Regions from separate parts of the Homo sapiens genome. Here all the other regions are linked to region 1. The links come from fine-mapping of genetic effects on gene expression. A gene starts in region 1. Each other region holds a variant in brackets. All regions are shown on one strand. Distances are from middle to middle.

Region 1 (2,761 bases):
GTGCTCCCCAAGCCTTGGGAGATAGGGGCTTCTGTCCCACGGAGAGTTGCTGCGAGGGTCCGATGAGCTGAGGGTTAGATTCTGGAGTGGTTCCATATCTGGAAATCATTGTAGTCATGCAGAACAAGGAAAATGGACAGATCCTCCTTCCAGACATGGAGTGTGGATTTTGACATTGCATGAGTAGCTCACGGCCCAAGCTGTGCAGCTGTCTCAGTATGAAATGCCTCTCTTTCACACCCCTCTGCTCTCAGGACCCTGCCTTGTAGGAGCCTAGGGCTCCCCACAAACATTGTGTTCTCTCTGCTCCTCTCTTTGGTCATTCTATGTCCTGAGTTCTTCCCACCATGTTCTCCTCTCCCACTCTTCATCAGCTCGAGAATCAGCTTAGTATCCCTGACTTGCCAAGTGCCTTTAACCCCCAGCCCTAGACGGATGCTCTTTCCACTGGGTTTCCATGGTCAGTTAGAGGCGCAGGGCCACATCTCCTGCCCTGAAGTCATCTGACTGTGCACTCTCTAAGCCACTCACTGGCTGTGTGACCTGGACAAGTGACCTAAACCTTATAAGCCTCATTTGTTTGATCCACATGGTGAAAATATTAATAGTTATTTTGCCGAGTTGTCAAGAGAATGGGAAGGGCTGGCCTGTTTAGGACAGGAAGTCATCTCATGGTGGCCGGCACTAGCCGGGGAGCCTCCAGGCCTGCGAGCCCAGAGCGGCTTTCCCTTGGGTTCTGAGAGCCTCCTGCTGCACCTGGCAGATCTCAGGATGAGTTAGTGATTCGGGAGTCTGCATGGCCCTCCTCACCCCTGTATAGGTTAGGAGTCGAGTCCTCTCCCCATCATGAAGCATGGCCTCTTCGTGGCCAATCCCTCTCATCTCTCAGGTCTTACTCCAGGCATTCCCCAGGGCCCTTGTCTAAGAAGCTCTCCTCTCCCCTTCTTCCCACATCTGCCCTGTTTTATCACCACCCGATATAGCACCGGCTTGTTGATGTGTTTGCTCAGTCACGACTCTCTCTCCAAAGCAGAAGGTAAGCTCCAGAGAGAAGGAACATTCTCTTGTCTTCTATTCTGCGTCGCTGCATCCTCAGAACCCAGCATAGGGGCTGGAGCCTAATAGATGCTCAGTTAACTGGAGTGGGAAGAATGAATGGAAGTGTCTCCCTAGCACAGCGCCAGGCACAGCACAGGCACTTCAGAGATGCCTGTTATATGGAAACCCGGGACCCCCGGGGCTACGGTTTCCTTATTTTAGGAATTTCCCCCACCCCCGCCACCCCCGACATCCCCGCTGCCCCCACCACCCCCGGCTCCAGGCCCTTCCCCCCTCAGCCAGTCTGTCCCTTTTCCCAGACCCCAACCCAATGGGGGCTTCCTGCAGGGAAGGGCCGGCTGTTCTAGCCTCCCCATTCACCCCTCACTAGGATTTAGAGTCGGCCGCGCTGCACTCCCGCCCCGCGCGGCCCCTGGGCGCCCGCCCCGGGCATGCTCAGAGCGCGCAGGTCCGGGCGGCGGCGGCGGGGGAGGAGGGAGCGGCCGCCCCCGCCGCCGCCGCGCGCTCGCCGGGCCCGGGCGGAGCTGCGCAGTCCTCTCGCAGCTGCGCCAGGACAGCCGGCGCGCGGCCGTGCCCACAAGTTGCCGGCAGCTGAGCGCCGCGCCTCCTCCTGCTCGCAGCCCCCTACGCCCACCCGGCGGCGGTGGCCAGCGCCAGGACGCACATCCCGCGGACACCGACCCCAGATGTAAAGCGGGACCCCAGCCCCTCGCCCCCCGGCGCGATCGACAGTCTCGCCAGCGTCTCCTCTGCCAAAACCCAGGGCTGGAAGATGTGGCAGCCGGCCACGGAGCGCCTGCAGGTAAGGGGCACCCGGGAGCCGGGGGCCAGCCTGGAGGAGGAGGTGCCCGGGCAGAGGAACCTAGTTTTTGCTTCTGCCTACTTTAGGGGATTTGCCCAAAACCATCTTGTAAGACGCATCGATGGCAACATGATGCTGTCGGTTTACCCAGCGCCAGGAACCCGGCAGGGGTATGGGGATGATGAAATTGATAAACGCACGGGTTCAGGCGTTACAACTTTTGGCTTGGAGGTGCTTGTGTGCGTGTTGGTTGGTACATATAAGGTTGGACTTTCTGACTGGCAATTTAGATTGCATTCCACTGACACAATGCAGTGGTCTGGGGTTAGGATTTTTGAAGCCAGATTTTTTTTTTTTTTTTTTTTTTTTTGTGGTCACCAGGAAAGACAGAACAAGTGATATGTGAAAGCATCCATTTGCCAATATAATGTGGAAATATCAAGCTTGGTTTGGCTTGGTCATGGTATGCTACTTATTTTATTTTTCCCTATTCATTGGTTCTCTCCCTTTATCTTCCTTAAACCCAAGCTCCTTCAGATATTTAAGAATCAAAAGTAGGTTCAGCCAGGAATATTTATGTCCTGGGTTATCCCATCAAAAGTTTTTTACTGCTGTCTCCTGAAATGCCAGACTGCCTTGAATTGGATTCTGGAAGCTGGGGATTTGCGGGAGGCGATTGAAGAGAAAGAGGGACCTTTCCCAGAAGAACTCCTTCAGTGACACGTTGGGCCTTGGGATTGCCCTGGTTGCAAGGTTTGAGGACTGCCTTTTGCTGGCAAATATTGTCAAGAGTCACGGCAGCTACTCTGCCAGATAAAATCCACTGAATCCTGCAGTTAAACTTTTGGCAAGCTAGGAGCCACATTGTTTCGTAGTAAACTTTGAAGACGTGTTTAACTG
Region 2 (2,761 bases), 140 kb before region 1:
CTTCTTATGCAGAGATAGAATGCTGTGCTTTCTTGGGGAGGAGGCAGGCGGAGTCCCATGTATCAGCAAGTAAGTTAATGCTTATTAAAAACAGGCGACATTGACAGAGTGTTTCCAATGTGTGGACCCCGTTCTAACCCCTAATGTGCATAGCTCACTAAATCCCCCCGAGAACCCTATGAGGTGGACAGTAATGCTCTTCCCCTATAAGCCTGGTCAGCGTGGTTCCTAAAGCCCTTTCCCAGCATCTTCACTGGCCTCTGGCCACGTTTTGTGGATGGCAAGGCTTCCTGGAGCCCAGATATCCTCAGACGGCCCTGTTCCAGGAGAACCTATTTATCAGCTGTTGCACACATTTCTCTAAGCCATAACTACGGGGCCGGGTTTAGATTTTGGAATGCGTTTGTGGGCTCTATTTATAGCCATTTCATTCAACCGCTTGCTCCTATTGCTGCTTGCTTGATGCCATCCACCTGGCTGGAGACCTTGCATTGCCCTCACCGTTGCTTCTCTTTGGATGAACCTACCTTTATTTAGTAACCTTTTTGGCAAGTCTCATGGCCTTGTAGGCTACACTGAAAACTTGATTAAGCTCCTGGATAAGAGGGCTGAAGCTGGGCCAGGTCTTGACTTTGTGTTCCACAGATCTGATGCTTCTGTTGGAGTATGACGTTCGGTTAGAACCAAACTCCACTAACATCTACCAGGACACAACAGCAGATGTGCTGGCTTCATTCTCAGGCTTCTCAGTTCTGAGTCTATCTATCTATTACCTTTCTCTCTACATATCTTCAACCTCCTTCTTTCCCCTTGCTCCTTTCCATGTGTATAAATATTTTCATGGATTTCTTACTCTGAACAAATGAAGATTCTAGGAAGATGGCAGCTCACATTGACATTCAATATCTCTGATCCCTCCTGACTCTCTGCTAGGGATGGCTCAATAAGGTAGATGACCCTGAATGGGGTCATCTGAAGATTTGGGGTCTCAAGAAAGGGTATGTGTGCTGGGAGCCTTTGCTTAACCACAAGAACAGGGGATGAGGGCTCCAGAGAGAACTGATGACTCAATGAACAGATTAGTCCAAAAAAATCCTTCAGCTTATAGAGAGGAAGTGCATGCTGTAATTGTGCTGCGTCTGACCCTAGGAGGCAGAGGGGTGTACTGATCTCATGGCTACGGGCTGCTGTCTAAGGAAATTGCACAGTAGGCTGAGCTGGCCCCCCCATTTTTTGTGGCCTTGAGAACACCAAACTGGGAGGCCTCTCTCTGCCTCATGCCTTAGTACACAGGGCCCCATTGGCTGCCCATCCATCCCTGAAGGGGAATGTGTTATGTTGTCTGTCTCTGCCAAGATTTCCACCCACTAGCCTGGCCAGTACACTAGCCCACGCCAGCAACTCAGAGAGGGAGAAAAGTTTTGGGAAATAAAAA[CAAAAAT/T]TGCAACAACAGCTCTAAACACTCAAGAAAGGAAGTGAAGAAAGTAATGTACACTACTCAAAATTGAATTTGGATCTGAATAAAAAGGAGGAACTAGTGCATGAGAGAATCAAAATATGAGGAAGTGGAAACCACGAGTGAAAAGACAGGAAACATGGAGAAAAGATTTGAGAGATCTGCTTCTGCCTGAGCGATGGGTGCTCCAGAAGAAGGAGCATGTGGAAATAGAAGCAGAATTAACTAACTCCTAGAAGGAGGTGTCTGTGAGGTGAAGAAAGTCTTATTTTCAAATAGAATGGGCTCACAGGGCAGTAATGGGATTAATGAAGGAGATGATACACAATTTGAGATTTCCTGGTAAAATTTGTAACTGCAAGGATAAAGAGAATTTTTTACAAGATTCTTCGAAGGGATCACAGGTTACATACAGAAGAAAGAGAATCAAATCGGCATTGTACTGCCCCTCTCTATCATGAGGTAAAGAATAGCAGAGCAGCGTTTCAGACTTTTAAATGAAAAGGACTAGGAGTTTGTTGTTTATATTTGAGGGCAAAAGAAAGACATTGCCATACATTCAAGGATACAGAAAATATAGCACCCTATACCCTAAGATAAGTACCTTAATAAGCATCGCCACCAAATAGGAACTAAATCAAAACAAAGATATCCAGATAGGGGAAGATGGAGAATGGAAGGAAGAGATGTATGCCTTTAAATGCAGGCATAAATCTAAATATTTGATATTTATGTGATTGTGAATGGTAATATAATGGTGAAGGAAAGTCTCTTGAAAAAAGTAGATCCGCCTTCTGTATCAGCTATCTATTGCTGCATAACAAATCAGTACCCGGTACTGGCTTAAACAACATGCTTTTATTACCTAACAGTTTCCTAGGTCCAGGTGTGGCTTAGTCAATTCCCAGCTCAGGGGCTCACAAGGGTGAAAGCCAGGTATTGACTGACTGAGCTCTCATCTGAGGCTTGAATAGTGAGAAATCAGCTTCCAAGTCCCCTTAGGTTATTGGCAGAACTTATATCCTCGTGGCTGTAGGATTTGTGACAGCTTGCTCTTTGAAAGCTAGCAACTATGACAGAGACCCCACTGCTTCCAGTCTTGAACTTCCGGGAAGGCCTGGACTTTTTTTTTTTGTGATGGAGTTTCACTCTCATTGCCCAGGCTGGAGTGCAATGGTGTGATCTCGGCTCACACCAACCTCCACCTCCTGGGTTCAAGCGATTCTCCTGCCTCAGCCTCCTGAGTAGCTGGGATTACAGGCATTCACCACCATGCCCAGCTGATTTTGGATTTTTAGTAGAGAC
Region 3 (2,761 bases), 60 kb before region 1:
AGGTGCTGTGAATTTGGTGGGGTGTGTGGCTACAGAGGATGGCATCACATAGAACTATGGGGTTGTCTATAGGGGAAGGTCACATGGAATTGCTTGGCACTTGGGATAGAGATGTTTCTAACTGCAGCAATTATGCTCTGAAGGGCTCCTCTCCCTGAACACGAGATTAATGAGTGCTATTGACAGCAAATATGATAATTATCTAATGATATTCATAAGTGTCTGAAATACTTGGCACTGTGCCTGTGACAACTTGGGAGCCATTTTCCATTTACATCTTAAAGTGAATCTAACTCATTTAAAAATAATAACAAACCGACCACCGTTGATAAAAACCATAGGTTAGATAAGCATTTAGTCTCCTCTACTGCCCCTCTGCAATTATGCATATGGAGGCTTCCAATCCTAAGCAGAGGCAAAGCCTTCCCCCGCTGACTGAATTTAGTCTCTAAGAAGACTGGCAATGGGAGCAAACTAAGGCCTCTTTAGAACCTGCATTGTTAGAGAGCCAAGCTTTTAATTAAAATACAACTGGGTACAAACCTGTACAGAAGCCATACTTAAGGGAGACACAAGTTTTGCAACCTCACCCCAGCAGTCTTACGTTGGGAGCAGGTGGTGCTGGAGGGCAGACACATTGGAGGTGCTGGAAGAAGGTGGTCGTGACTGGTGGGGCAGGTAGGGGTCACCATTCCACGTTGAGGTCCAGGATGATAGAAGTGCTTCAGGGGCAAGGAGAGGTCCTTCACTAAGGTAGACCATGCACTCAGATGTTGCCCACGGAGAAGGTAGTATGGGGTCAACATCTGCCAAAGGACTATCTAGCTGGAGTCTCAGAAAGACAGGAAAGTGAGTTCTCCAGAAGAAGAGGGTTAGGCCACAGTTCTTACGGATTCAGGTGCAAAAGATGTGATTTACCCCTCGATACTTAAGTACAAAAACGTCAGGTGTTTTCCTGAATCAAATTTAGCCTGACTTAGGTCTTAGCCTTCTCTTTTTGATAATGTACAAAATGCCAGAACTTACACAATCTTGAAATGTTGATAAAGAGCCTGGGGTCTCTGGTGGCCACTGAGCTACTCAGGAAATAGGCAGCAAGGCTCATCAGAAGATGTGGGAAGAGAGGGACCAGGTGATTTGCCCAGAGTCTCACAGCAGGTAGGTGGGCCAAGACTCACACACGGCACTTTTGTCTCTTACCAGCCCAGGCCATTTGTCTTCTCTCCTCCTCCTTGTGCCAAATCCATTCAACAGAATAGGTGCTCTCAGTGAGTCTCTAGTGGAGAAGTTTTCAAGTAGCCACACAGCAATTACGCAGTGCCAGCAATTGTCATATCAGCCCTAAGAAAGGTTTTGAAAGCTGCAGTGAAAGGACTCCACGTCTCCAAGTCTCGTGCTCAGAGAGTTCAGAAACCAAATAGGAAGTGAAACCACAGGACCATCTGCAAGAGAAAAAAATAAAGAAATGAGGAAGCCAGGAGGGGGAAGCATGGAAATGAACCCT[G/A]ACCAGGGTACTGATGACAGTTAAATAAGGGCAAGACTTGATGAACGATGGGAAGTCTTGGTTGTATTAAGAACCAAAGGTTACTTCAACAAGCATTTACGGAGTGACTTTCCTGTGCCAAATCCTATGCGAGGTGCTGAGGATATAAAGATTAATTAGACCTCCAGCTCATTGCTGAGTCCAGAGACTATAGTATTTCACAGATTCAATCACAGATATCTGTACAAGGCACAGAACCCATTAGGAAGAAAGAGTGATTTCATAGCTCATGGGGTGAATGAAGGCATAGCTCATATGCCAGCTGTCTGCTGTCCTTTGAAATAAATAAAACATTTTATTTATTTCAAAGGACAGCTGGAAATATTTTATTTACTTATTTTTATTTAATGTACTTCATCAAAAATAATTAACTCCAGGCCCCTAGCTCATGATTAGGGAACAGCCAATGGACTCTCCAAAATTTCTGGCAACTTCCAGGGTCTCACAGGCTCACAGTTCCTTCTGACTCTGAGAACCCAACAGAGGTCAGACTCACAAGACCATGTGTCTCACTTTCTACAGCTTTTCTTTCCTGTGCTCCATTCTGACCCAGATATGGATCTCATCCTTTTTCTACAAAAAGCTTTCACACAAGCTGGAGTTGGATTAAAAAATAATAGTATGGCGAGGCACGGTGGCTCACGCCTGTAATCTCAGCACTTTGGGAGGCTAAGGCAGGCAATCACTTGATATCAGGAGCTTGAGAGAAGCCTGGCCAACATGGTGAAACCCCATCTCTACTAAAAATACAAAAATTGCCAGGCACAGTGGTGCGTGCCTGTAATCCCAGCTACTTGGGAGGCTGAGGCAGGAGAATCACTTGAATCTGGGAGACAGTGGTTGCAGTGAGCTGAGATCGCACCACTGCACTCCAGCCTGGGCAACAGAATGAGACTTTGTCTCAAAAAAAAAAAAAAAAGAAAAGAAAAAAAACACCCAAAAAAGTATGGAGATGAACACTAAAGAATAGGAATAAATCACCCCCAGTCAGAATTGGCATTGGCTGTTAAAAGTTTCATGTGACTACTTTACCAGCTGAAAATCAGCTCTTCACACAAGGCACATGTAGGTCAACTGAATTTAATGAAAATATGTGAACATGGCTTTTCCACTTAAATGACTGAAAATCTAATATGACTTAGTCCTATCTTTAAAAGTATTTCAGCCTTCTCACCATGGGAATTCTTCACTGGCCAACTTGCCCAGAAAACTGCTACC

What was found.
Region 2: its variant is fine-mapped to the expression of PID1 in whole blood (TOPMed, PIP above 0.99).
Region 3: its variant is fine-mapped to the expression of PID1 in whole blood (TOPMed, PIP 0.98).

The regions. Positions count from the first base shown.
Region 1 is chr2:229,270,114-229,272,874 of GRCh38, reverse strand. It overlaps PID1 (phosphotyrosine interaction domain containing 1), which reads left to right and starts at 1,588. Exons shown (of 3, transcript NM_001100818.2): 1 at 1,588-1,861. The coding sequence starts at 1,832.
Region 2 is chr2:229,414,992-229,417,752 of GRCh38, reverse strand. All of the region lies in intron 9 of DNER (delta/notch like EGF repeat containing), which reads left to right. Among named protein-coding and RNA genes, the nearest start is that of PID1, 150 kb to the right of the region's middle. The variant CAAAAAT/T (reference allele first, on the strand shown) is at 1,436.
Region 3 is chr2:229,329,825-229,332,585 of GRCh38, reverse strand. No RefSeq gene overlaps it. Among named protein-coding and RNA genes, the nearest start is that of PID1, 60 kb to the right of the region's middle. RefSeq lists an enhancer at 878-1,958. The variant G/A (reference allele first, on the strand shown) is at 1,505.